2 separate regions of the Homo sapiens genome follow, and region 1 is linked to region 2. A link means that fine-mapping ties the variant in region 2 to the plasma level of a protein whose gene starts in the linked region. Region 2 holds a variant in brackets. A gene starts in the other region. All regions are shown on their forward strands. Region 1 holds the start of CCL17 (C-C motif chemokine ligand 17). Region 2 holds the start of PLCL2-AS1 (PLCL2 antisense RNA 1).

What was found. PIP is the posterior inclusion probability: the model's chance that the variant is causal. Protein levels are from antibody-based Olink assays in UK Biobank. Linkage for the fine-mapping came from a reference panel and not from the study's own genotypes, which makes the PIPs less certain.
Region 1: it holds the start of CCL17, and the variant in region 2 is fine-mapped to the plasma level of the CCL17 protein (UK Biobank, PIP above 0.99).

Annotation. Positions count from the first base shown.
Region 1 is chr16:57,394,309-57,409,015 of GRCh38, forward strand. CCL17 (C-C motif chemokine ligand 17) reads left to right here and starts at 10,459. Exons shown (of 4, transcript NM_002987.3): 1 at 10,459-10,528. RefSeq lists an enhancer at 6,112-6,161.
Region 2 is chr3:17,040,642-17,056,124 of GRCh38, forward strand. It overlaps PLCL2 (phospholipase C like 2), which reads left to right. Exons shown (of 6, transcript NM_001144382.2): 4 at 2,233-2,308. It overlaps PLCL2-AS1 (PLCL2 antisense RNA 1), which reads right to left and starts at 13,943. Exons shown (of 3, transcript NR_046640.1): 1 at 13,885-13,943; 2 at 3,413-3,547; 3 at 2,111-2,272. RefSeq lists an enhancer at 13,779-13,968. The variant A/G (reference allele first, on the strand shown) is at 8,659.

The DNA of each region.
Region 1 (14,707 bases), not on the chromosome of region 2:
TGTTACAAAGTAATGGACTTGCTGCCCGATGTGAGTAGAAGCCAATATTATAGCACCACTTTTGCGAAAAGAAAAAGCTTTATTCCAAGTCACCTGGCAAGGAGACAGGAGACAACACTCAAATCTGCCTCCCTGATCCCTGGGTGGGTCAAGTTGTTATGGCACTGTTAACTAGTCCCAGGGATGCCAATGTGGCCGGTTGCCACGTTGGTGGTGCTAACTCTCAGGAGGTGGAAGTTTTCTCTGATTGCACCGGGCCAGGCTACATGACATGCAGTTTTGGCTCCGTGCCATCTGTAACAACTCAAGCAATGGTAAACTAGTTTGAGCTGGTCCTGTGGTTATGCAATCACCAGCACATCCCGGTCAAGACATTGTCCCCAGGCAGGCCAGAATCCCCAGGAAGCCTGGACTGGGTCACACCCTGCTTGTCGCCCAATCTCTCCAGAGGAGTGAGGAGGCAAGGGAGAATCTAGAAGCTCTGGAGTCTCAGTGTGTCTCCAGTTGGTTCCTGCCAGTGGGTTCATGGTCTCGCTGACTTCAATAATGAAGCCGCTGACCTTCGCAGTGAGTGCTACAGCTCTTAAAGATGGCACGGACCCAAAGAGTGAGTGGTAGCAAGGTTTACTGTGAAGAGCAAAAGGACAAAGCTTCCATAGCATGGAAGGGGACCCAAGCAGGTTGCCGCCGCTGGCTGGGGGTGGGCAGCATTTAGTCTCTTATTGGCCCCACCCATGTTCCATTTCTGTCCTATCAGAGTGCTCTTTTTTTCAATCCTCCCCACGATTGGCTACTTTTAGAATCCTGCCAATTGGTGTGTTTTACAGATTGCTGATTGGTGCATTTTACAGAGTGCTGATTGGTGCATTTTACAATCCTCTTGCTAGCTACAGAGCACTGATTGGTACGTTGTTACAGAGCGCTGATTGTGGCATTTTATAATCCACTTGCTAGCTACAGAGTGCTGATTAGTGCATTTTTACAGAGTGCTGATTGGTGCATTTTACAATCCCCTTGCTAGCTGCAGAGCGCTGATTGGTGCATTTTGCAATCCTAGCTACAGAGTGCTGATTGGTGCGTTTTACATTCCTCTTGCTGGACAGAAAAGTTCTCCAAGTCCCCACTCGACCCAGGAAGTCCAGCTGGCTTTACCTCTCAATCCCCGCTCTAAACAGGACACCCCAACTGCTGTTGAGAATTGGGTAATGACTGCTCTAGCTACTTCCTGCTGGATAGGGACAAAGAAGGGGCCCTGCAGTGGTAGTGTCCTCCAGAGGGGAACTCTCTGGGCCAAAGGGCCAGTGGGTCGATCCAGGGGTCCTCGGTAGAAGTTGTTAGTTGAGCTCATTTGGGGTTCCATTTTTAAAACCATCTATAGCTTGATGGCCTCAATCCTGGAGGAAACAAATTTGACAAGGAGGTCAAAAATACAGGGCCCGAAGGCAAATAATAGCAAGATGGCTGTCACGGGACCTAGAAAAGGGAGAAGCATGTCGCCCAACTCCAGAAGTGGGTATAAGAGTTTGAAAGGCATTGTCTGATTTCAGAAGCCTTTTCCTGTAAACACCGGGTGGTGTCTCATACTATCCCTGACAGGTTACTGTAAAAACAACACTCTTCCCCTAAGAAGGTACAGAGTCCTCCTTTCTCAGCAGTGAGGAGGTCTAGGCCTCAGTGGTTTTGGAGAGTCACTGCTGCCAAAGAGTCTATTTGGGACTGTAGAGTAAGGATAGATTTTGTTATTTCTTGCAAACTATCTTAGAGAGTGTGTGGTAGTAGGATAATGAAGTAGATACACTGGCTATTCTGGTTCCTGTAACAGTGGCCATTCCTAACCCTATAAGTAGGGGTATTAGTTGTATTGCTCTGCACTGACAGACTTGAGCTTTGAGGTGCACTGATAGGGTCTGATTTCCTGGGGCAATGTCAATGTTGGGACTTAGGAAGACTAAGGTGCAGGTGCCTGTCCAGTTGGTGGGGAGGCAGATATAGGTTGAAGTTCCACATAAGAAGAATATGCCTTGGCTGGGTACACAGAACTGGTTGTGTATGTTAAAAAGGTGTGTGAGTTTGTTGTTTTCATTTTCCCATACTCCTAGAGTACTTGCCAAGGTAGCTCCAGTGAGCGGCTGGAAAGGAGTGTTGGGAGCAAACTGAGTGGCTCCCTGTGTTCTATTTTACCATTGGAGAAAAAATCGTTTTGTATCTACTAGGAACCATTCAAGAGAGTGATTGAAATAGGGGATGAGAAGGCATTCACTAGTGGTGGGGGCGCTGCTGCAGGGGGTCCAGGGGTGAATGGTCATGCAGGGAGTATGTTTGCCATTATTAAACCTAGACTGTTTGTTAAGCAGGAAGGAGGTGATGATTTTTGGAGGCTCTGAGAAGCGGACAAGCCATCTGAATGGAGCTGTTTGGGTGAGTCGGAAGTTACTGTGATCAGTTGGGGCTTGAAGTTGTAGGGTGTAATTACACTGATGGGATAGTAGGTGCCCCAGGGGCAGTCCTGATAACAGGTTGCATTGGATGCATAAAGGGGCTTGGAAAGTTAAGACAGTATTCGTGGTTGCAGGGCCATGTATGGTTTTTTCATTGCTTGTGTAATAGGTTAGGTTGGAAATGTAAGAGTGTAAAAGCTGGATTGCGAAGCTTTGGGGAAGCCCAAATCTAGGAATTATTTCATGAATTAGGACTTTAACCACTTCCTGATCCTTCTCTGTCTTGCAAGGGAAGGCTTCTATCCAATTTGTAAAGGTTTCAACACAGACTAACAAGTATTGAAATCCCCTTGACTTAGGCATATGAGAGACGTCTAACTGCCAGTCCTCTCTGGGATGGTGCCCTATTCTTTGTTGTCCCAGAGGGGCCTTACGATGGGCCAAGGGATTATGCCTTTGGCACACATCACAGGCTTTGACTACTTGTCGGATGGTCCGGAGGAGATTTGGCCCTGTAAATAGGGATTTGGCCATTTGATGAGTGTTCTCAATACCCATATGAAAACTTTGGTGGAGGGTCTTAAGTATTTTCCACTGGCTGCCCTCTTCTGTCGTTAACCATCCCGAGGGGAGAAAACTATGCCCCCATGAAAGTCCCCATTCTGTTTCAGTCAGGGAATACTGGGGCTTAATCTCTTGGAGAGGGTTGTTCCATACCAAGGGTCCTTCTCTAGGTATTTCTAATGGGAGTTTCCACCTGGCAGCAATTTTGACCTCAGCGTCTGCCTGACGGTTTCCTTCTGCCTTTTCTCCTTCACCTTTTTGATGGCTTCAGCAGTGTAAGACTGCCACTTCCTTGGGGTCTTGCACTGCATGCGATAACTCCATGATTTTCTTGTGGTATTTAATGGGAGCTCCCCCAGAGGTTAGGAACTCCCTTTCTTTCCATATTGCAGCATGGGCATGTAGGATTAGATAAGCACACTTGCTATCTGTGTACACATTTATTCTTTTTTTCCTTTCCCAGTTCTAAGGCTTGGGTAAGTGCCACTAGTTCTGGTAACTGGGCGCTGGTCCCTAGGGGAAAAGGCTTACTTTCAAGTACTGTTACATCAGTAACTATGGCATAACCTGCCCTTTGTATCCCATTCTCCGCAAATGAACTTCCATCAGCATATAGGTTAAGGTCAGGATTAGCTAAGGGGACTTCCAAGAGATCCTCTTGGGTGGCATAAGTCTGGGCTGCAATTTGTTGGCAGTCATGCTCAATTGGTTCCCCATCCTCTGGGAGAAAAGTAGCAGGGCTGAGGGCCGCACAGGTGCATATTTGAAGCACCGGTCCCTCAAGGAGTAGCACCTGGTATCTAAGCAGATGGTTGTCTGATAGCCATAAATTTCTTTTGGCACCTAGTATGCCATTTACATCATGAGTAGTCCAGATGGTGAAATCCTTTCCTTGTATTATTTTGATAGCCTCTGATACTAACATGGCCACCACCGCAACTACCCATAAACAGTGAGGCCAGCCTTTAGCTACTACATCAATTTCCTTACTTAGGTATGCCACTGGTTGTGGGGTTATTCCTCGAGTCTGAGTAAGGACTCCAAGAGCTATTCCCACTCTCTCTGTGATGTGTAAAGAGAAGTTTTGTCCTCTGGGAAGGCTTAAGGCTGGAGCTTGTACTAGGGCCTGCTTTAAGGTTTTGAAGGCTGTTTCTGCCTCTGGTTCCCATTCTACTAGATGGCCCTCTGGGTCTCCTTGATTAGAGTATAGAGAGGCTTGGCCATCTCGCTGTATCTGGGGATCCATAGTTGGCAAAAGCCAGTGATCCCAAGGAACCCCTGCAACTGTTTTAATGTCTTAGGGTGAGGATAAGCCAGTATAGGCTGTATTCATTCTTTGCTGAGGGCCCTGGTTCCTCTGGCTAAGATTAGGCCTAGATATTTGACTTGTTGTAGGCAGAGCTGGGCCTTCAATTTAGATGCCTTGTACCCTTGATTAGCTAGAAAGTTCAAGATATCTAGAGTAGCCTGCTGGCATGAGGCTTCCAAACTGGTAGCCAAAAGTAAATCATCCACATACTGAAGGACCAGAGTCCCTGAACTTGAGAAGTGGCCGAGATCTTGGGCCAGTGCCTGACCAAACAGATGAGAGCTATCCCTAAACCTTGAGGCAAGACCGTCCATGTAAGTTGGGATGTGTGGTCTGTGGGATCCTCAAAGGCAAAGAGAAACTGGGAGTCAGAGTGCAGGGGAATGCAGAAGAAGCCATCCTTGAGGTCCAGAACAGTGAACAATTCTGCTTCCTCTGGTATTTGAGAGTAGGGTGTAGGGGTTGGGTACAGCTGGATATAGAGGAATTACTGCCTCATTGATGAGTCTAAGATCTTGCATCAGGACTCTCTGAGTGCCAGAGCTTCTGCCACCTGGATGTTTTCCTGGGCCTCCCCTTCTCCCCACCCCTGGTTCTCACCTGGACCTGTCTGACCTGTTTCCAGGTGCTTATACATTGCCACGACCACCATCAGATCAATGAAGGAGAAATCCCATCCACATGGCTGGGGCCCTCTTTCTAGAGTGTCAGGGGTAGGTAACCACCAGGGCAACAGCAGTGGTGGCCTGGGGAGAGGTGGAGGAAAGGAGTCATTAGTTTATTGCCAGAGATGCTGATCAATAAGACATTGACCTTCTTTTTTTTACTTATTTATTTTTTTTATTTTTGGAGAAGGAATCTTGCTCTGTCGCCCAGGCTGGAGTGCAAAGGTGGGATCTTGGCTCACTGCAACCTCTGCCTCCTAGGTTCAAGCGATTCTTCTGCTTCAGCCTCCAAAGTAGCTGGGACTACAGGTGTGTGCCACCTTGCCCAGCTAATTTTTTATTTTTAGTAGAGATGGGGTTTCACCATGTTGGCCAGGCTGGTCTTGAACACCTGACCTCAGGTGATCTGCCCCCTTGGCCTCCCAAGTGTTGGTATTACAGGCGTAAGCCACTGCTCCTGGCCTGACATGGACCTTCTTCTCATGAGGTTCACTGTCCACATGATATCCCTGTGAGCCTTTGGATGCATTTTCTCATTGTCATCCCTGTCACAGCTCAAAGATGAGCTCGTGCTCATAGTGTTACCAAAACACCATGGGTGCAGTCTAGGTCCTGCTGCTCCCCACACAGAAAGCCAATCACTGAGACACCAAGTATTGCCAAGGAAGACTTTAATCGAGTGCTGCAACCAAGCAGATGGGAGCTCAGTCTGAAATCCATCTCCCTGATTGACTAAAACCAGGAGTTTATACAGCAGAGAAGAAATGTAACAATGTATAAGAAAACAGGAACTGGCAGGACGCGGTGGCTCACGCCTGTAATCCCAGCACTTTGGGAGGCGGAGGTGGGCGGATCACGAGGTCAGGAGATCGAGACCATCCTGGCTAACGCGGTGAAACCCTATCTCTACTAAAAATACAAAAAATTAGCTGGGAGTAGTGGCGGGCGCCTGTAATCTCAGCTACTTGGGAGGCTGAGCTAGGAGAATGGCGTGAACCCGAGAGGCGGAGCTTGCAGTGAGCTGATATTGCGCCACTGCACTCCAGCCTGGGCAACAGAGCGAGACTCCGTCTCAAAAAAAAAATTATAAAATATAAAAGAAAACAGGAACTAGACAGGGGCAATGAAGCAATCATGGTGAATGAGGGGGTCTGGTATCTGGTACAGTAATCTGGTGGGTTTCAGTTCTTTGACACTTTTTTTTTTTTTGAGAGGCCCAATGGTCATTCCTTGCAGAAGGAACCCAGATAAAGCAAATATAAGTTTCAAGCTTTAAGACCAGAAGGGTCAATTTCCATGTTTGTCCAAAGAACAGTGTATGGGAGCATTGGGCTGGTTTCCATCTGAGCCTCATTTTCCAGATGGGAATGCAAAGGCACAGAGAGATTCAGAAATTTACCCGGGCCGGGCACAATGGCTCATGCCTGTAATCCCAGCACTTTGGGAGGCCAACCGGGGTGGATCACCTGCGGTCAGGAGTTCCAGACCAGCCTGGCCAGCATGGTGAAACCCCATCTCTACTAAAACTACAAAAATCAGCCATGCTTGGTGGCGTGTGCCTGTAATCCCAGCTACTTGGGAGGCTGAGGAAGGGGAATCACTTGATCCTGGAGACAGAAGTTGCAGTGAGTCGAGACCATGCCATTGCACTCCAGCCTGGGTGACAAGAGCGAGACCCCATCTCAAAAAAAAAAAAAGAAACTTACCCAAAGCCACGCACTTAGTAACTAAGCCAGCAGGCAGCCTCACTCCAGACACCCTTCTTCTTCTTCTTCTTCTTCTTTTTGTAAATTGTGGTATAGTTGGTGTATAGAATAGCATACAATGATGAAAAGAAAGAACTATACATTTGGCATATATCAACACAAATGACACTGTCAGGTGTGATGCCGCAAGATGTGGAAGTATAGATACAAGATGATGGTGTCGATATAAAGCTTAGAAATGAGCATGAACAGGCCCGGTGTGGTGGCTCACGCCTGTAATCCTAGCACTTTGGGAGGCCAAGGCAGGAGGATCATCTGAGGTCAGGAGTTTGAGACCAGCCTGGCCAAGATGGTGGAACCCCGTCTCTACTAAAAATACAAAAATTAGCTGGGCATGGCAGTGCACCCCTATAATCCCAGCTACTCAGGAGGCTGAGGTGGGAGAGTCGCTTGAACCCTGGAGGTAGAGGTTGCAGTGAGACAAGATCACACCACTGCAGTCCAGCTTGGGAAACAGAGCAAGACTCTGTCTGGAAAAAAAAAAAAAAAGAAAAAAAGAAATGTGCATGAACAATGCTATATATTGCTTAAGGACATACACACATATGAGTTAGTGAGCTGTGAAGAAATGCGTGGGACTAATGGCTGCCAAATTCTGTTCCTCTAGTGCATAGAGGCTGTGATTAGGGGAGGAAAGCGGGGCTCAGTGACGTGGTAATACATCTGTTAACCTGGTGGTGGGTACAGTAGTGTGGTTAGCAACGCTGATGCCCTACCCAGGCCCCACTCCTTTTGGTTGATTTTACTTTCAATCACTCTCCTGTGCCCCTCCAAGGAATCTGGCTGAAGCTGCCCCCCGGGGACGTCACCTGAGGTCACACCCTTGCTGGGTTTCCACTCCTTCTCTGTCTTCACTCCCCAACTTTCCCTCCACTTCCCCAAGGAGCACATCCTTAATGAACTCAACCTGAGACAGTGGAGAGAGCCCAGTCACCCATAAGCTGAGAGAGCAGAGCCCAGGCAAGGCAGAAAGGAAGGGGGACCCTATTGTTAGCCAAGTGTGGTTCAGGCGAAAGCCCCACAGTGCAGAGGGACAGCCACAGCTCAGAGGGCAGCTGAGGTGCTGGTTCTTCCCTGCAAAGGGCTCTCTAGGGACTCCTGCTTCCCAGGTCTGGGGCTTGCTCAGAAGTGGCCACAGCCCTTCCCAATACCCTCAGCCTCCCCTGGGGAGAGCCATGACCCAGGTGGCATTGTGCGACGTGTCAAATCTCCAAATGCTGTTGAGTCGTGACCCCATTCCCTGCTGGCTTTTGCAGTGGCTGAGATTCCCAAGGCCTTTCAAAGAGGCCAGATCCACCAGGCTCCTTGGAAAGGGTGTGAGGCTTCTTCCCAGGATGCTGGGTGCTTGTCACTGACCCTGGTGCTGAACAGATCTTCCTCGGGTGCCCAGAGGGTCGAGTTTGGCAGGACAATCCCCCCACCCCGACTGCAGGCAGGCTGCCAGACTAGGAGCAGAGGACTTCTGAGTTCTCAGTGACTTCTGTCACTACACCCTGAGGGGTGAACCTCAAATTTTCCCAATGTCATCAGGGGACCATAGACCTGCCTTTGAAGTAGCTTGGAAACAGGGACAGATGTTCCTTGGAAAGAGAGTCAGACTCTAGCAATGAATAAAAGGCACTCATTTACAAGGCTTGAGTGGAAGCTCAGAAGTCCTGGAGCCCAGGCATCAGAGAGACATTGAGACAAGTCCATTGGTAAGAGTGAGAGTAACAAGAAGGGTTTCTGCATTCTGCTTCAGGAACAACACCAGCCATTTATCCATTCACTCACTTAATCCAAAAACTATGTATTGAAGGCCTACCATGTGCCGAGATATATTCCATTAAAGAAAAGAAACAGAAACCTCTGTCCCATGCAACTTACATCCCAGTAGGATGGGGGTGGGGGTACAGGTGGGAGACAGATAGTAAACAGCAGACATAAGTAAGCGAATGGCCTAGCATGTCAGAGGATATAAGCATTTCAGCAAAAAAAAAAAAAAAAAAGAGCAGAGGAAGAGATGGGGATGGCATGCAATTTGACTTCACTGAAAGATGTAATCTAAACAAATACATATATATATTTATAATATATATAATATATATTATTATCTATAATATATATAATATATATTATTATCTATAATATATATAATATATATTATTATCTATAATATATATAATATATATTATTATCTATAATATATATAATATATATTATTATCTATAATATATATAATATATATTATTATCTATAATATATATAATATATATTATTATCTATAATATATATAATATATATTATTATCTATAATATATATAATATATATATTATAATATATATAACATATATTATATATAATATATATATTATAATATATATATTATATTATAATATATATTATAATATATATATTATATTATAATATATATTATATTATATATATTATATAATAATATATATATTATAATATATATATTATATTATATATATGTTATATATATTATAAATATATATTTTATATATATATAATATATATTTATAATATATATAATATATATTTATAATATATATAATATATATTTATAATATATATTATATATATTATAAATATATATAATATATATATATATATATTTTTTGAGATAGAGTCTTGCTCTGTTGCCCAGGCTGGAGTGTAGTGGTGTGATCTTGGCTCACTGCAACCTCTGCCTCCTGGGTTCAAGTGATTCTCCTGCCTCAGCCTCCCAAGTACCTGGGACTACAGGCACCTGCCACCACGCTCAGCTGATTTTTGTATTTTTAGTAGAGATGGGATTTCACCATGTTGGCCAGGCTGGTCTCGAACCCCTGACTTCAAGTGATCCACCTGCCTCGGCCTCCCAAAGTGCTGGGATTACAGGCGTGAGCCACCACGCCCGGCCTAAAAAAGTTTGAAAAAGGTGAAGGAGTGAGTCCTGCAGGTATCTGGGGACAACATTCCAGGCTGAAAGAACAGTCCGTGCAAACCTCCTCAGGAAGGAGCATGTCTGTCTGGTTGGTTTGAGGCATAGGGAGGAGGCCAGGGTGGCTGGGGCAGAGTGAACCAGGGAACCAGGAGATACAGGTGGGCAGAGAGCAGGGCACAGAACTCGCGGGGCCTCGTGGCTGCTGGAGGGTCTTGGACTTGTCCTCTGCGTGAGGTGGAGAGCCACGGGGACGTTCTGAACACGGGAGATTCATGGTCCCTCTGCTGCTGTGCTGAGAATACACTGTAGGGGGCAAGGATGGAGACAGGGAGAGCACCCAGAAGGCAGTTGTAGGAAGCCAGGGATTGATGCTGGTTTCTGGGTGTATTTGGAAAGCAGAGACATGAGCTCACCCAACAGATGGGAAGTTGGGGGCGAGAGGAAGAGGCGTCAGGGATAGCGCCCAGGTTTCTGGCCCTAGTAACCGGAAGGAAGGGGCTGGCAGAGAAGGAGGAGAGAGCAGGTGTAGGGGTGGGTGGGAATCAGAAATTCAGCTTCAGACTTGGGGGGTTGGAGCTGCCTATTTGGTATGGCGAGTAGGCAGCTGGACGTAGAAGGAGGCTGGAGTTTGCGAGAGAAACTTGGGAGTGGTTGGCATATAGATGATATTTAAAGTCAGAAACGTGTACTATTTGCCAGATATAAGCAGTAAGGCAGTTGATGCAAACCAAAGCCTTCTAATGTAATTATTGTTATTATTTTCATTTTGCAGCTGTAGAAACTGAGGCTCAGAGAGAAGTGACTTTGAGCTCACAGTGTCACCGCCTGCTGATGGGAGAGCTGAATTCAAAACCAGGTGACCTGACCTAGAGTCTTTGCTCCTAACCCCTCCACTGTGAGGTGACCCCCTCGCTGGATCTTTCAGGGCATGTGTTAGATGAGCGGTGGATGGACTTTGGATCAAGGGAAGATAATCCATACAAGAAGGGGACAGGAGTTTGGAAGCAGCAAACCAAGTCACAAAGTGAGGGGACGCACTGGCCCTCAAGAAAGCTCAATGTTGGGGAGCAGGGAGATGAGACTGAATAGGAAGGAGGGGCTAGATGGAAGGTACAGCTTCAAGATTGGCCTGAAAAGTTTTGACTGGATGGGGAAGGAAGCAGGGAGCCATTGACGGTTTTGGAGGAAGGGGGCATTACATGGTCAGGGCAGCCCTTGTGAAAGATCCACCACATGTGGGCATGCAGCTGATGAGGGAGGTGTCAGGAGAGACCAGAGAGGAAGAAATAGGCCCAGAAGTTTTTGAGACTCTCTGGGTGTGAAGGATGAGGGCTGAGCCAGTGGAGATGAGAAGGAAGCAAGGAAGCCAAGCTCCCACTGAAGACAGCGCTGGGCAGAGTCTCTGCCTGATGTAATGTGGGGGATGGAGGCGAGGAATGAGTCAAGGGCAAAGTTTCAGACTTGGGGGCAGATGGGGAGATGGGAAACAATGCTGGCTTGAACAGAAAAAAAGGAGGCTGGTGTGAGAGGGAACTCGGTTTTGCCCTTCTGGTACCTGGGGCTGAGTGAACCATAGCAGGACAGACTTCTGCTTCCCAGCAGCTCACAGGTTAGTGTGGGGGACAGAACTGCACAGAGCTGGCCAGGCTGCAAGGCAGAGAGAGCTGAGGGGTGCCACAGAAAGATGGGCCGGAAGGAGGAGTGTCCAGGTGGGTGTGTCTGATTAGTTACTGGTCAGGGCTGGAGACAGAGATTTAAGAAGTATTTATCAGGCCAGGTGCGGTGGCTCACGCCTGTAATCCCAGCACTTTGGGAGGCCGAGGCAGGTGGATCACGAGATCAGGAGATCGAGACCATCCTGGCTAACACGGTGAAACCCCGTCTCTACTAAAAATACAAAAAAAAAAAAAAATTAGCCGGGCATGGTGGCGGGCGCCTGTAGTCCCAGCTACTTGGGAGGCTGAGGCAGGAGAATGGCGTGAACCCGGGAGGTGGAGCTTGCAGTAAGCCGAGATAGCGCTGCTGCAGTCCAGCCTGGGCGAAAGAGCAAGACTCCGTCTCAAAAAAAAAAAAGAAGTCTTTATCCAGAGGTAAAAGATCTGGGGTAGATGATGTCAGGGAGGAAGGGAAGGTTGCTTGAGGCAAAAACAAAGTCTAGGACAGAAGCCCAGGCTTGCTCCTGCCACCAGCTAGCTCTGTGCCCATGAAGCAGATTTATTTTGTTGTTGTTGAAATGGAATCTTGCTCTTTTGCCCAGGCTGGAGCGCAGTGCCACAGTCATGGCTCAGTCGTGCACCACCATGATTGGCTAATTTTCATTTTATTTTTTTTGTAGAGACAGAGTCTCACTATGTTGCCCAGGCTGGTCTCAGACTCCTGGGCTCAAGCGATCTTCCCACCTCAGCCTCCCAAAGTGCTGGGATTACAGTGGACCAGTTGCTTAAACTACTCTGGTCAGTTCCTAATTTTCTCATCTGTAGAAACTAATAGTTCTTACTCCCTGAAGCTGTTGTGAGGACAAAGTAAACTAATAGACTTAACTGCTGAGATTCCCCTGCCCCAACACCCACCCCAGCCTATAGTGAGAGCTCAGGGACATTTCTGAGAAGAGGAGCTCACAGGGAGCTCAGGGAAGAACCATGTCCCAAATCCCAGTGGGAGGAGCATCAAGAAGGATGGTAGGTTCCCAGGGATGACAAGGCGATTCCCTGAGCCAGCTGGAGACTAGGAACTTTATAGACTTCATCTCAGTTAGTTTTCCAGGTCATACCATGAGGGAGTGTCTTATCATCACACCCATTTCACAGATGAGAAAACTGAAGTTCATAAAATCGCTGTTAGTCACACAACCAGGAACAAGTAGAAGAGTGACTGGGACTCAGGGCTGTAGGTAATGATTCCAGAGCCTCTGCTGGTAATCACTGCCCAATGTAAGGCAGTGGGAGGTTCAGGGAGTGGCTGGAGGGGATCAAGAGGCTCAGTGAGAGCACCTTTCCTAGAGCATCAGAGCTGGAAGCCACATTGCTGAGGATTAATTAAATCACAAGTGGGCAGAGAGGAAATGGTAGAGGGAAGTACAGACCACACATCGGAGCAGTTTGGTCATGAATGAAAGGAGAAATGGGAGGGCAGCATGCGAGGGTGTTGAAGTCAAGGGGAGGTCTTTATGGAAGTGGAGAGACAGGATCATGTTGTCAGCAGAGGGAAAGGGGGTCATGGGATTGGAGACAGTAAAGAGCTAGAAGATGGCAGTGCAACTGAGGGAAGGAGGCCCCTCTGGGATGAATAAAGGTTGAGATCCAAGCCACAGTTGAAGCAATATAGGTTTGGCAAAAAATGGCCACAACCACAAGGAAGTTGTAAACTAGATGGGGGAGGAGTCAGGGTGTCCTTGGTTAGATTCCTCTGCTTTATCCATGACAGAAGGATTCGGGTGTGTCTCATGAAATGATGGTACACACTGGTTTAAAAACTATTTGGATGAAGGAGGCCCTGGGATAGAATGTGAGTTGGGCCCATGTTGTAGTTCAGAATCTCTAAGTGACCATCCATCTATCCATGCATTCATGCATGTATATATCCATTCATCATCTATCAAGCCATGCACCCATACTTCTATTCATCCATCCAACCACACATCCATCTATCTAGCCATACATCTACACATACACCCACCCATCCATCAGTCCATCCATCTGCTCACCCATCCAGTTTCATGCATCCATCCATCATCCATCAACCCATTCATCCATCCTTCCATCCATCCATCATCCATCCATCCATCCATCCACCCATTCATTCATCCATTCATGTATCCATCCATTCATCCATCCGTCTGTCCATCCATTCATTCATTCATCTACCCATCCATCCATTTATTCTTTTACCATCCATCTACACATCCATCTACCCATCCGTTCATCCATTCATCTACCCATCCATCTATCTATTTATTCTCTCACCATCCGTCCACACATCCATCTACCATCCATCCATCTATCCATCCATTCTTCCATCCATCCCTCCATCCATCCATCTACCCATCCATCCATCTATTTATTCTTTTGCCATCCATCCACACATCCATCTACCATCCATCCATCTACCCATCCATTTATCCATTCATCTACCCATCCATCTATCCATCCATTCATCTACCCATCCATCTATCTATTTATCCTTTCACCATCCATCCACCAATCCATCTATCCATCATCCATACACACATCCACCCATCCATTTATCTACCATCCATCCATCCGTCCATTCTTTCATCCACCTTCCAGCCACTCATCCATTCATCACTCACCCACACGTCCATCCATCATCCATCCTCCATCCATCCATTCACTCATTTACCCATCCATATCCATTCACCCATTCATTCATTCACCCATCCATACAACCACTCACCTATTTATACATTCAGTAAACATATATATATTTTTTGAGACAGGGTCTCACTCTGTCGCCCAGGCTGGAGTGCAGTGGTACAATCATGGCTCACTGCAGCCTCAACTTTCCTGATGTAGGTGATCCTCCCTACTCGGCCTCCAGAGTAGCTGGGACAGGTGCACACTGTAACACCTGGCTATTTTTTTTTTTCGAGATGGAGTCTCACTATATTGCCCAGGAGGGAGTGCAGTGGTGTGATCTCGGCTCACTGCAATCTCCACCTCCCGGGTTCAAGCGATTCTCCTGCCTCAGCCTCCCGAGCAGCTGGGATTACAGGCACACGCCACCACACCCAGCTAATTTTTTTTTTTTGTATTTTTAGTAGAGACAGGGTTTCACCATGTTGGCCAGGATGGTCTCGATCTCCTGACCTTGTGATCCGCCTGCCTCAGCCTCCCAAAGTGCTGGGATTACAGATGTGAGCCACTGCGCCTGGTCATTTTTTTGCATTTTTTGTAGAGACAGGGTTTCACCATGTTGCCCAGGCTTGTCTTGAACTCCTGGGCTCAAGTGATCCACCTGCCTCTGCCTCCGAAAGTATTGGAATTACAGGTGTGAGCCACCAAACTGGCCTAATAAA
Region 2 (15,483 bases):
TCACATTATGAGGTGTAATGTCTTTAATAAGCTTATTTTATGGGTAGGAAATTAGGGTTATGAGGTTAAATATCTTGTCCTAGATGACAAAGCTAATGAGTAATAGAACCAGGATTAGAACCCATGTAAATCTTTGCTGTTTCTGCCGCTACACCACTCCCAAGATGAGTTTCTCATCTGCATGTGTGAGCCTCTGCTTAATGCTGCTGTTTTGTTCTCCTCCACTCCTGCTTTTGCTCCTGTCCTCATTTGTTTAATGACTGGGTTCATTTCCTTGATCATATTTTTTTTTCCTTCTCCTATTTGAATGATGGGGGCACAGTTGGCCAGTTCTTTGATACTGAGCTGTAACAATCACCATCCTTGCTTGAAGAAGTCCTTGCTTCTTTGTATCTCTCATTTGGCTTGACATCAAAGCTGAAAAAGGTTACTGATGACGGTATGGACCTTTTCAATATGCAAATTATGTAATGGTACAAACGACTTTATATCAGTATAATAAAGTTCTTAACGATTCATTTTTATTGCTGCCTGTTCAATACGTCAAGCTGTAAAATAGAATATTTTAATTTATGGGAATGACTCAGATCTTGAAGAATGAATGTGAAAATACTGAATTCCAAAGTGCAAACTCTGCCATAGGCTGTGGACTTCTTGAGGACAGGGGTTGTATCCTGTAGGTCAGGTATCCCTGGTTTCCACACAGGGGCTGCCTGCAGTAGACCCCAGCGATGATTAAAGATACATTATGAAGGCGTAAATAAATGCCTGCCTTGGCCTTTAAACTTTTGATGTTTACCATTTTTTTAGAACTGTGCAAGTTGATAAATACTATCTGACTAAGCTTAAGAAGCTAGTACACTTTTTAAGAGACATGTTGGTTATATTTTAAATAAGTGTAACTTACCAAAAATATGGTGGTTTTTGAATTATGCAAATAATCCAACCTGCATATATTTAGTTACTATAAGATAATTACTATGGCAATTAGTGATAAATGCTATAAAGAAAAATAAGGCAGGCCAGGTGCGGTGGCTTATGCCTGTAATGCCAGCACTTGGGAGGCCGAGGTGGGAAGATCACTTGAGCCTAGGAGTGTAAGACCAGCCTGGGCAACATAGCAAGATCCCATCTCTACAGAAAATTTTAAAAATTAGCCAAGCATGGTGGCACACACCTGTAGTCCCAGCTACCTGGGAGATGGAGGCTGGAGGATTACTTGTGCCTAGGAGTTGGAGAGTGCACTGAGCTATGATTGCACCACTGCACTCCAGCCTGGCTGACAGAACAGACCGTGTCTCTTAAAAAAATAAAAAGAAAAAAAATGAGGCAGAAATGAAAGGAATGGTTGGGTGTTTATTACTTAAAATATGATGGTCATGTAAAATAGATGAGTAATATTATAATGCAAAATATTTGGATATTTAAATACAAATATGTAAAATTTATACTAAGGTAGATATCATAATTGTACCCATTTGAGCCATGAGACTTGTTTCTGGCTATCCCATTTCCTTTTCATAGTGATTTTAGAGCCAACAAGATTACTTCAGAGGGATCTTTTCCTAGCTTTTTGGTGAGTAAAATAATGGATCAGCTGTTCACTGATTCTTTCCCTTCTTCAAGCTTGGGCTCTTAAAACAAGCACATGCAATTTGGAACAAGAATTCAAATTTGAACATTTTAAAAACCATTAATAGGAACATAAAAATACTAGTTTTAGAGGTACTATTAGTGATGAATGGTATCAAATAAATAAATGCTATTTTTTAATTCTCATTGTATGTTTTAAACTGAATTTCAGATGAAGACATTTTGGCTGAAATGAGTGAAGTGTGTAGGTGTTGAAGTTTTCTATAAGATGAAGTTGAAAATTTTGTTAAAATGGATAACCAAATTTTAAAACTCAGATCAGATTTGCACGCATATTTGTAGCTTTTCACGCTGAAATGAACTCAGTTCAGTATATTAGCTCAGGGTTCAAGTGCAGTGTTGTACTAGCCTCACTGCACTTGGAAAGTAATACTATTCACATCTTGTTTTAACCATTATGTGGGGATGTGTGATGTTATCATTTTCACATGCACATTTGAAGTTGAGTAGTGGAAAGTCAGATAAAAAAGCGTTTAATATCATCACATCAGCCTGTTTTAGGAGAAGAGCCTTGTGCATGAATGCAGGAGGGGATCTAGTTGTCAGGTGTAATCTCATGTCTGGATGTTCCCTTTGCAGATGATTCAGTCCCTCAAGGCGTTGATTGAAAATGCAGATGCTGTATATGAAAAGATCGTACATTGTCAGAAGGCAGGTAAGTGAAAGTTTGTTTCCTCTCTTTAAATGAAATTAATAGCATCATATACTTTGCCCCAAAACTATTTCATTTTTTGGATGCTATATCAAGAAAATCAAATAAGAAAATTATTTTTCTATGGCTAAAGAAAATACCAATTCAGTGGTTCTCAGCCTTGGGTAACAAACTCACCTGAGGGGACCATTCAAAATACATTAACATTGGTCTGAGGTATGGGGCTGGGAATTAATAACTATTTTAAATTCCCAGGTGTTTCTAATGTACAGCCAAAATTGAGAAACTCTGCACTAATCTCTTCTTCAGTGTTAACTGTGTTGCCAAAGCTCCTGCTGGTCACCCGTGACTCTGGTACACAGTAGGATAGGTAAGGCTTGAGTAGAGGGAGAATGGCTTCTTGTAAAGGAGATGGATTCCAGTTACAACCTCCTGACACTTTTTAGTACACTGGCATTTTCGCGTGCTGATAAATTCATTAATTTAACATCCAAATGTTATACCAGACTATAAAATTCTTCTTATATAAACAATCATCCCATTAATTTTAGCTGTGGTAAAACCAAAAAATTCAGTATTCTGCATTGTAATAAAAATACACAAAATGGAGTTCTTTTAATTTTCTGATTTTTTGAGTGTTGATTTGGGAGATTCTATTATGGAGAATATTTTCAAGTCATAAAAAAAAAAAATTGTCCTGACTTTCTAAGGTTTTTTTCGTTGCTGTTCTTTAAAACCAAGAAACTATATTGCCTACCCTGAAAAAAAAAATCCCTTATCTCAGAAATGAACTTGTTTAAAATAGATTGAAGATAAGGATATGTGTGACATTTTTTTTCTAATATCTATTGAAAGAGTATTCATATTAGTGACTAATCAACAAACTCCACAATCCCCATCTTGTTTTACTCATCTTGTCAGCAAATATTGTTAGCAAAGTGGTCTTTCTACTTCTAGTCCTTTGCAGGCTAACTCTCCCTACAATCTACATTTAATTATTCAAACACAATTTTTATCTACAACACAATCTACAAATTATTAACACAATCTGCAAATTATTGAACAGGAGATATGGAAGTAAACACAGTAAATATATTGAATACTTACCGTGTGTTACTCAGGAGTCTCAAGTTGGTGTGTGAGGCACTGGGGAGACATTGGTGTTTGTGTAGAACAGGAGAGGGACTGAGCTTTCAGGTACTGACCATAATAGCTGTGTGCAGAGAATGTCCATGGGCAGACCTGATGGGAGGCAGTTGGCAATAGATAAGGAAGGTGCTTCTGGAGAGTGAGGGAGGAAGGGAAGGGATGGTGAGCCATCTACCCTCTGCTTTGGGCTGCCTGTCCCCATTCCCTGTGTTTCTACTTAATCAGATTTGCACACATCACTCATCTGCTGAGACTTCTTTCTCTGCCCTCTCTGCCAATCTGTACTTTCTTCTTTTTCAATTATCTCAACAGTCTTCTGGGAGACCTTTCAAGATTCCAGGATTTATGTTACCTAAAGCATTCTATTCAGCCCTTTAAACCTTTAATTTGCTTCAGTTGGTAGGGCTTCTTCAGTTATTGTGTATTTTATTAATGCATTCCATCTTGTAAACAGGATAATAACCTCCTAAAGCACTAAGATTATATATCAAGCTGCTCTCTGTATCTTACCCATGACATCTGTTCTAACATTCTGCACAGAGTAGTTGCCCAAATATTAACTAAATATGATTTTATTTTAATTATTTGATTCCATTCAATGCATGTATTGCTATGAAAATTGTGGACTTTGTGGAATTTGAAAAAAACTGTTTATCAGAAAAAAAACTATTCAACAATTTGAGTTATTGTCAATTCACTGGTTTATGAGATTTGATAATTTTCAGTATAATGTGGCTTTCTGTTTATGTTTGATTTCAGTAAGGGATACATGTGCTTGTACTTAAAAAGCTGAAGAATCTTATCTATTAGGGATTTTGATTAGGATGGGGGGAGAATAACCACTGTGTAATGGTTCAAGTTGCTCTGGGTTTAAAGATCTTTAGAAGCGTGTAAAGATTATCTTTTGGTTTCACAGTTACTGATGAACGCCTACACAGCCCTTCTGTTATCCCAAGTACTTATTTTAGAGTCCCTTGATCTTTTGTTTCTCATGTTTACAATTATGGTAAGGACATATAGTCATTAGTCATATGAAGAATTGCTAATTTGTTTTGGGCTCAAAGACAGTTGCATAAGATCTTACTTTTGATAAGTAATTGTTATTCTGCTTGCCAACAGATATAGGTCACCAAAGTGCTGCAAGAGAGGATTATTTTAGATGTATTTCGAATTTTAAAGCACAAACATATATTTTTATTAGTTAAAACCTTGTTTAAATAACTGAGTGGAAATAAAGAGTCAGACATCCACCCCCAAACACATGTTAAAAAATGTCCCCAGTTCAGAAGGGTTCAGGCTCTTGGCTGTGTAATCTATTTTTTACATAGGAACATGCTATGCTGATGTTAGTACTGGGAAGAGGAAGCGTGGCAGGAGAGGAATGCTGAGAAGTGAAGACCTCCAACCAAGGTAGGCTAGGAACCTATGCATCCCAGCAGTGGAGGACCCAAAGGGACCATGGAAAGAGCAGTGGAAACAACTCGGAGATGCGCAGTTGGAGGCAGCCTGCCTGCATAGTCCTCTCTGTTAAGAAGAGAATGCAGTGACACAGAGAGTTGGGGTAAAAGAGAAATTTTAATAATAAAACCATGTTGCTAGGAGTATATAAACGACCCAGTGAAGAGGAAGACATTAATAGATGAGACAGAGATTCAGGATGAAGGATGTGAGGTCAGGAATGAAGTACAGTCATGAAACACTTGACCTCAGAAAGGGAGAAAGGCTCCTCGTCTGAGATAATACAGAAAGCCGTGACATTTAGAAAAATTCTGAAAAAGAGAGGAGTGTTTTCCATTGACGAGGTAAACAGGGAAGTAGTGTCATAGGAGAACACCAACTTTGGGGGTGAGGAAGTGAAAGCGGGGATTCAAGACAGGGGCAAGAGTATGGGGACTTTGCTCAGAGTCAGAGATCAGCAGTGCCAGTCAAAGGGACTGATTAAATATCAGATCCTGCAGGGGTGATATGGGATGCGTGAGTCTGGGCCGCCATGGGAGTGAGAAGTGATGTGGCCATGCAAGAATGGGTCTCTATAATTCATAAGCCCAGGCGAACACATGCATACATGTTCTCAAGTAGGAGATTGGTAAGGAACACCAGCAGGAGAGCTGAACAGGAGTCTGCAGAGGGAGAAACATCATAAAAGTTCATTTGTTAGAAATGTATAAAAGTTGGGAAAAGATTTGTCAAATTCTTTCAGGGCCAAAGTCTTTTCCACTTTCTAATATCAGGGCCAAAGTCTTTTCCGCTTTCTAATATCTATGTTTTTGTCTCTTTAAATGCCAAAACTGCAGCCCATTTTTGGATTATAATTTCCTTTCTAGTCACTGAATTGGTATGCTTAATAAAGGATAGGAAGACGATCAAGAAGGAAACCCAAATGCTTTCCCTCAGTGAGCTAGGTGTTTCTATCAGGTAATTTTAAATGGAAAATAAATTGTTCTCTGGAGGAGGAAAAAAACAAATCAATGACATCCTGTTAAAGATGGTGAATTAACAAATGCTTTTAATCTCTACTCTAAAACCTCATTAAAATGACAGTAGAGGGTTTTTCTTTAAGCCACAAATCCATAAGGACAAAGAAATCGGGAGCAACAAAATTCTAGAAACTGAGTAACAGCTGAACAAGTGATAATTGGCTTAGCTGCCCACTCAGGAACCTCAATCTGAAGCTGGTCTTGGGGGGCCTGACACAGCCTGACTCACAGGCCAACCACCAGCTCAGATCTAACCTGGTGACCAGGTACCTCTGGGAACTGGGTTAAAGCTAGTTATAAAAGACAGGAACTGTGTAGAAGCTGGATTAATTAACGCTTAGATCTCTGTGTCCTGACAGTGGGGAGGTTAAAAATAGCAAAATTCTCATTCTCCATATGGGGAATTTAATAGGTGATGCTTGAAAAACAGTTCTAAGTAAACAATATAAGCATGTTACTTGGAAATATGAACATAAATACTAAGGAAGGGAAACAATCAGCTAAAGGCATTGAATGTGACTGCTTCTGGGGAGGGAGAATTGTGGACAATTATTTGGTTCTTTACGTACATGCATAATTCTAGCAAAAATAAAAACTAAATTCGAAGAAAAAAGAAGGAAGGAATCAAGGGGCAAAAGCTGCCACAGGAACTGAGGATGTTCCCAAAGATGTGATCCCACACCCACAAGGCCTGGGAGAGTGTTAGGTTGCAGAGGCGCAAAGAGCCCGCATAGGACACCTGCTGGCTTCCCTGCTTTCATGGGCATGCCTCAGGCAGAGGTGATGCCTGCATGCCTGGGAGGATGAGAGCAGGAGAATCTGTTCTGTGCACTTTCAGAATGACTGTTAGGAGGGAGGATCAAACTAAATGAAAGATGACCCAGCCCTCTCCACACCTCTTTAAATGGAAGGTTCTTTGCTAAAAGCTCCAGCGTATTTTCATGCATGGCCAGGGTTGCATCTTCACTGAGTAAAGTGGGATCAAAGAAAATAACTTTCCAAATAATAAAAGCTTTAATTACCCTTCATTTTAATCAATTTAATGGGAAATTTTCAGTGGATCTTATCCATCCCTGCTTTCTTAAATTTGATTTGCCAAAAATAATTTGAACATTTGTTTTAAAGACCCAGGGTCATCTTGAGATGCTGCAGTTTAATGCAGTGATTTCTTGGAGGCTTTAAGTTTGGAGGCCCCTTAACCTGCACACACAGCAGCCTGCCTGCTGTGACTGTTCAGATCTGGACATGGTGTTAATAGTTAAATTCCATCTCCTTTCATTAAACTCTCACTTCCTACTGCTTTGTACTGTATTTCCAACTGTCTGTTTGTATACTGCTCTTTTTTTCTCTTACATTTGCTGCTTCCAGTCTGCTGAGCAGTTGATGTCTCCCCTGTGACCAAGCGATTTATCTTACATAAAAGAGGATGAGGCCCCGACACACTCCTGCATGGGGAAAACCAGCAGAATGTCAGGCCAGACCTACATGACCTGGATTTAATTGCTCAGAGACTTTTTTTTTTTTTTCAAACTCCTCAGATCTCAGTGTGCTCCTAGGAGCTGAGGTTATCAGATAAGTAAGCCATCACCACCTGTCACTTGGTTCATGCACATCATCTTGCCCAACATAGTAAAGAAAATCATCTGCGAGATTCATTCTGAAAGCACTTAACAAGTGTTCTGTTTGAAAATACAGTTGACCCTTGGACAACACAAGTTTGAACAGCATGGGTCCACATATATGTGAGTTTTTTCAATAAATATACTGAAACATTTTTTGGAGGTTGGCAACAATTTGAAAAAAGACAGATGAACCATGTAGCATGGAAATATCAAAAAATTTAAGAAAAAGGCCACAAATGCATAAAATATATGTAGGTACTAGTCTATTTTATCATTTACTGCCATAAAATATGCACAAATCTGTTATAAAAGGTTAAAATTTATCAAAACTTATGCACACACTTAAAGCCCATACATGACGTCTTTCACAGTTAAGAAAAATGTAAACAATGTAAGATGCACTATTAACTCATAACTGCTAAAATTAACTCCAAAACATACTTTGCTACTGTAATAATTTCATAGCCACCTCCTGTTGCTGTTGTGCTGAGCTCAAGTGTTGGGAGTATCTGCTTAAAACGCTGTGTGATGCTAATCATCTCTGACTGAGCAGTTTATCATTCCAGTAAGTTGCATTCACAGTAAAAAGTGATCTCTCACAGTTACGGCATATTATTCATCATGTTTAGTGCAATACCATAAACCTTAAGTAACACCATGGGACCTATATGAAGTGCCACTGGTGATACTGTAAGTGCTCCCAAGAAGCAGAGAAGAGTCATGACATTACAAGAAAGAGTTGAATTGCTTAGTATATACCATAGATTGAGGTCTGCAGTTGACTGCTATTTCAGGATAAAGAAATCCAGCATAAGGACTGTTCTAAAAAAAAAGAAAAGAAAATTCATGAAGCTATTTTTGCAGCCATACCAGCAGGTACGAAAACCTTGCACTTCTTGTGCAAAGTTTTTTTTTATCTCACATTGAAAATACAGCTTTTAGGTGGGTACAGGATTGCTATACAAAAGGCACACCTATAGACTAATATGATTTAAAAAAAAGTGAAGTCATTATATGACAATTTAAAGTAAAGGATCCAAAGCTAGAGAATTTAATGCCAGCAAAGGATGGTTTGATAATTTTAGAAAGAGGTTTGGCTTAAAAA[A/G]TGTCAAGGTAATAGGCGAAGCAGCTTCTGTCAACCAGCAGGCAGCAGACAAGTTCCCAGATGCCATTAAGAAAATCATTGAGTCAAATTATCCTTGTTTGCAGATAATATGATCTTATGTTTGGAAAAGCCTAAAGACTCCACCAAAAATCTGTTAGAACTGATAAACAAATGCAGTAAAGCTGTAGGATACAAAATCAGCATGCAAAAATCAGTAGCATTTCTATATGCCAACAGTGAACAATTTGAAAAGGAAATTTAAAAAGTAATCCCACTTAAAATAGCCCCAAATAAAATTAAATACCTAGGAATTAACTTAAAGAAGTGAAACATCTCTATTAATGAAAACTATAAAACACTAATGAAAGAAATTAAAGAGGGCACACATAAAAAAATGGAAAGATATTTCATGTTCATGGATTGGAAGAATCAATATTGTTAAAATGTCCATACTACCCAAAGCAATATACAGATTCAATACAATCGCTATCAAAATTCCAGTGACATTCTTCATGGAAATTGAAAAAAAAAATCCTAACATTTATATGGAACCCCTAAAGACCCAGAATATTCAAAGCTATCTGGAGCAAAAAGAACAATACTGGAGGAATCATATTACCTGCCTTCAAATAATACTGCAGAATTATAGTAATCAAAATCGCATGATAATGGTATAAAAGCAGACACATAGACCAATGGAACAGAATAGAGAACCCAGAAAGAAATCCACACACCTACAATGAACTCATTTTGACAAGGGTGTCAAGATTATACAGTGGGGAAAACACAGTGTCTTCAGTAAATCGTGCAGGGAAAACGGGATATCCATATGCAGAAGAATGAAACTGGACCCCTATCTCTCTCCTTATACAGAAATCAAATCAAAATTTAAATCTGTGACATCAAACTGTGAAACTACTGCAAGAAAACATTGGGGAAACTTTCCAGGCATTGGATTAGGCAACGATTTCTTGAGTAATACCCTACAAGCACAGGCAACCAAAGCAAAAATGAACAAATGGGATCACATCAAGTTAAAAGGCTTCCACACAGTAAAGGAAACAAACAACAAAATGGAGAAATAACACACTGAATGGGACAAGGAATTAATAACCCGAGTATATAAGGAGCTCAAACAACTCTGTAGGAAAAAAAGTCTAATAATCCAATTTTAAAATGGGCAAAATGTTTAATAGGAATTTCTCAAAAGAAGACATACAAATGAAAAACAGGCATATGAAAAGGTGCTCAATATCATTGATCCTCAGACAAATGCAAATCAAAACTAAATGAGATATCATCTCACTGCAGTTAAAATGGCTTTTATCCAAAAGTCAGTCAATAACAAATTCTGGCGAGGCTGTGGAGAAAAGGGAACCCTCATACATTGTTGGTGGGAATGTAAATTAGTACAACCATTATGGAGAGCAGTTTGAAGGTTCCTCAAAAAAACTAAAAATAGAGCTACCATATGATCGAGCAATCCCACTGCTGCATGTATACCCAAAAGAAAGGAAATCAGTATATCAAAGAGATACCTGCACTCCCATGTTTTTTGCAGCATTGTTCACACTAGCCAAGATGTGGAAGCAACCTAAGCATCTACCAACAGTTGAATGGATATTGTGTGTGATACTTATACACAATGGAGTGCTATTCAGCCATGGAAAAGAATGAGATCCTATCATTTGCAACATGGATGGAACTGGAAGTCATTATGTTAAGTGGAATAAGCCAAGCACAGAAAGACAAACATCACATGTTCCCAATTATTTTTGGAATCTAAAAATCAAAACAATTGAACTTAATGGAGATAGAGAATGGAAAGATGGTTACCCGAGGCTGGGAAAGGCAATGGGAGGTCAGGGCGGGGGAGGTGGGGATGGTTAATGCGTACCAAAAAATAAAAGTTAGGAAGAACGAGTAAGACCTAGTATTTGATAGCGCAACAGGGGTGCTGTAGTCATTAATAATTTTATTGTACATTTTAAAACAATGAAGAGTATTATAGGATTGTTTGTAACACAAATGATAAATGCTTATTAAGTGGATAGATATTCCATTTTCCATTATTATGCATTACATGCCTGTATCAAAACATGTCACGTACCCCATAAGTATATATACCTGCTATGCACCTATAAAAATTTAAAATAAAAATAAAATTTAAAAAAACCATTGAGGAGAAAGGATATCTGCCTGAACAGGTGTTTAATGAAGCTGAAAGTACCCTGTTCTGGGGGGAAAAAAAAGTCACAGTGGAGAATTGTTAGTAAGGAAGAGAAGCAAACAGCAGGATTTAGGGCAGGAAAGGATAGGCTAACTCTACTGTTTTGTGCAGATGCAGTCAGGTTTATGGTCAGGACTGCCCCCATCTATAAAGCTGCTAATGCCCAAGCCTTAAAGGGGAAAGATAAACACCAGCTGCCAGTCTTTTGGTTGTACAACATGGAGGCCTGAACAACAAGAGCTTCTTCTATATTAGTTTCATGATGCTTTGTTCCTGAAGTCAGGAAGTACCTTGCCAGTAAGGGAATGCCTTTTAATTTTCTTTTGATATTGGACAATGCCCTTGGTCACCCAGAACCCCATGAGTTCAACACTGAAAGCCATGAAATGGTCTCTTTTCCCCCAAGCACAATGTCTCCAAGTCAGCATGTAGATTAAAGGGTCATAAGTACCTTTAAGGCTCATTACAGAGGATGCTATATGGAAAGGATTATTAATGCTGTGGAAGAGAACCCCCAATAGAGAGGACATCATACATGTTTAGAAGGATTCAAAATCCTGTTGAAGATACCATTGTTGCTACAGAAAAATCCATGAAAGTCATCGAGTCCAAAACAATAAATTCCTGCTGGAGAAAACCGTCCAGATGTTCACACGATTTATAACAGAGCTGCTGAAAGAAATCATGAAATAGATTGTGAATATGGCAAAAAAAAAAAAAAAAATTGGGGGGGGGTGAAGGTCTCAGGTTATGGATTTTGGAGAAAATCAAGAGCTCATGGACACCACACCAGAGGAATTAACAGAAGATAACTTGACGGAGATGAGTGCTTCCAAACCAGTGCCAGACAATGAAGAATATGTAGAAGAAGCAGTGCCCCCAAACAAATTGATATCAGACAATCTGGAAGAAGGGTTCCTATTATTCAAGACTGCTTATGACTTCTTTTATGACAAAGATCCTCCTGATGATACTGGCACTGAAACTAAAGCAAAAAGTGGAAGAAGTACTGGTACTGTATGGAAGCATTTTTAGAGAAGTGAAAAAGCAAAAAAGACAGAAATTGCAATGCATTGCTGTAAAGTTACACTGAGTGTGCCTGCCTCCCCTGCCTTTCCTTCTGCCTCCTCCACCTCTTCTGCCTCTGCCACCTCTGAGACAGCAAGACCAACCCCTTCTCTCCTTCCTTCTCCTTAGCCTACTCTGCTAGAAGATGATGAGGATGAAGACCTTTGTGATGATCCACTTCCACGTGATAAATAGTAAATACATTTTCTCTTCCTCGTGATTTTCTTAATGTTTTCTTTTCTTTATCTTACCTTATTGTAAGAATATAGTACATAATACATATCATATACAAAATATGTGTTAATCAACTGTTTATGTTACCAGTAAAGCATCCATCAGGTCCAAAGTAGGCTATTATTAGTAAACTTTTTGGGGAGTCAAAAGTTACATGCAGATTTTTGACTGCATGCAGAGTCAATGCCCCTAACACCCCTGTTGTTGAAGGGTCAATTATATTTGCAAATGGAAACCTGAGAGCCTTATAACTTTTTGTTTTGTATTAGTCTGTTCTCGTACTGCTATAAAGAAATAACTGAGACTGGGTAATTTAGAAAGAAATGGGCTCATGCTTAATTGGCTCATGGTTCCACAGGCTGTACAGGAAGCATGATGCTGGCATCTTCTCAGCTTCTGTGTAGGTCTCAGGAAACTTACAATCATGGCAGAAGGTGAAGGAGAAGCAGGCCCATCTTACATGGCTGGAGCAGGAGGGTTGGAGGAGGTGATGCGCTCTTTTAAACAACCAGATCTCATGAGAACTCAAAAGGGGGGATGGTGTTGAACCATTCATGAGAACTCTGCCCCATGATTCAGTCACCTCCCACCAGGCCCCACCTCTAGCACTGGGGGTTATGTTTCAACATTAGATTTGGGTGGAGACACAGATTCAAACCATTTATTCTGCCCTGGCCCCTCCCAGATCTCATGTCCTTCTCACATTTCAAAATACAATCATCCCTTCCCAATAATCCCCCAAAGTCTTAACTCATTCCAGCATTAACTCAAAAGTCCAAAGTTTGATCTGAACAAGGCAAGTCCCTTCCACCTATAAGCCTGTAAAATCAGAACAAGTTACTTACTTCCAAGTTACAATGGGGATATAGGGATTGAGTAAATAATCCCGTTTCGAAAGGGAGAAATCAGCCAAAAGAAAGGGACTACAGGGAGCAGTGTCCAGGGGCTGTACAGAGCAGCTGGGCCCTGGACCTGGTCCATGAAACCATTCTTCCTGCCTAGGCCTCAGGTCTGTGATAGGAGGGGCTGTCAGGAAGGTCTCTGAAATACTTTTCAGGCCTTTTCCCCATTGTCCTGACTATTAGTATTTGCCTTTTAGTTATAAAATTTCTGCAGCCTGCTTGAATTCCTCCTCTGAAAATGGGCTTTTCTTTTCTACCACATGGCCAGGCTGCAAATTTTTCCAACTTTTATGCTCTGTTTCCCTGTTAAATATAAATTCCAGTTTCAGGTCATTTCTCTTCCTGTGCATATGAGCATAGGTTGTTAGAAGCAGCCAGGCTACATCTTGAACACTTTGCTGCTTAGGAATTTCTTCTGCCAGATATCCTAAATCATCACTCTCAAGTTCAAGGTTCCACAGATCCCTAGAGCAGGGATACAGTGCAGCCAGGCTCTTTGCTAAAGCATAGCAAAAGTGACCTCTACTCCAGTTCCCAATAAGTTCCTCATTTCCATCTGAGACCTCCTGAGCCTGGACTTCATTGTCCATGTCACTATCAGTATTTTGGTCACAACAATTTAACAAGTCTCTAGGAAGTTCCAAACTTTCCCTCATCTTCCTGTCTTTTTCTGAGCTCTCCAAACTGTTCCAACTTTTGCCCATTACCAGTTCCAAAGCTGCTTTCACATCTTCAAGCAATGCCCTGCTTCTCAGTATCAGTTTCTGTTTTATGAGGCTTCAGGAAACTTACAGTCATGGTGGAAGGCAAAGCAGGAGCAGTCATCTTCACATGGCCCAAGCAGGAGAAAGAGAGTGGGGAGGTGCCATACATTTTTAAACAACCAGATCTCTTGAGAACTTACTATATACTACCAAGGGGGGATGGTGCTAAACCATTTATGAGAATGCTACCCCCATGATCCAATTACCTCCCACCAGGACCCACCTCCAGCACTGGGGATTATATTTCAACATGAGATTTGGATGGAGACACAGATCCAAATCGTATCAGTTCTCATTTATGTCAGAATGTTTCTCAGCTCTGTTTTACAGAAGTGAAAGGTTCTTTCCTGGGAATTGAGAGACCCATGTTCTGGTGCCCTCTGTACCATGTCCCTGCTGTGTGACTTTAGTTTAGTCACTTGACCCTCTCTGCCTCATTTTCCTTCTTCTAAGTGGCAGTGGATTATGTGATTCCCTGATGGCCCTATGCCTTCTAAATTACAGTGAACTAAGATCAGTTACATAAACAGCAATTTGGGAATGGCTGGATTACAGTTACTGAAAAAGATTAAAAGATTAAACAAGTCATCCCATACAATGTTACAGGACACATAAATTGTAGCCCATCATCATTACTTTCAAGGAGGAAAGTTAACACTTTGAAGATGAGACACAGGAAACCTGCATCAGACTCCCAGGCCCCATTTGAAATCCACAGCATCTTTTCTCTTAAAGACTGGATATTGAACCACCACATCTTCTTTTAGGCATTTACTAATTAATTAACTAATAATTAGTGAAGTCAAGGGAAGAAGAGAAGTAGCAAGGTCCTCAGTGGCCTCTTTCTCATTTTAATTCCCTCACTAAGGACCTTCATCACTGATAAGGGATGGCAGAGGAAATGACCACAAAGACAACAACTAGGCCAACTCATTCAGAGCAAAAACTTCAAAATAAGCAACTGGTCTCTAGAAACCGCTGTCTCACCACACCTCAACCGTCCCTGTAACCTTCACCCTAATTCTGCTCTAAGATTCCCACATCATATATTCACAGAGTCATGCAAAGAAAAGAAGGATTCCCACATCAACTTTCACACGAATGTTATTTTTCATACGTGTGATCAGAATCCCCTGGGAATGCTTGTTGAAAATGCAGTCTCTTTACATCATTCCCAAAATATTGACCATCTGGGAGTGAGACTCAGGAATTTGCATTGTGGTGAGCACATTCAGGTTTTGAGAACTTCTCTTTTGAGGGTAGAGCAGAGCAGGCCCTCTTCTGAGTTCATGCTCTTTCCCTAAGCCTCTCTCCTCTGTCTCTCACAGGGAGAGTGTGAGTGACTGCTCAGACTCAGGCATGCACCAGCTGTGTGATTGAATGACAGCAAAATTATCTTTCTAGAGCAGCATAGAACATAGCTTTCACCAGTGACATTTCCCCAGTGCCACAAATGAAGGGGAGGGAAGTTTTGGGGACACTTGCCCTTCCCGGGGTACCTGTTCTGTGATTAAATCCCAACACTGTGCTCTCTTGTCACATCTTCCTCCCTCCTTCCTTCGTAAACCCATGGAGTCTCTGAAAGCATCCCCTTGTATTTAAATAGCAACTCTCAGGGTCATCTCAG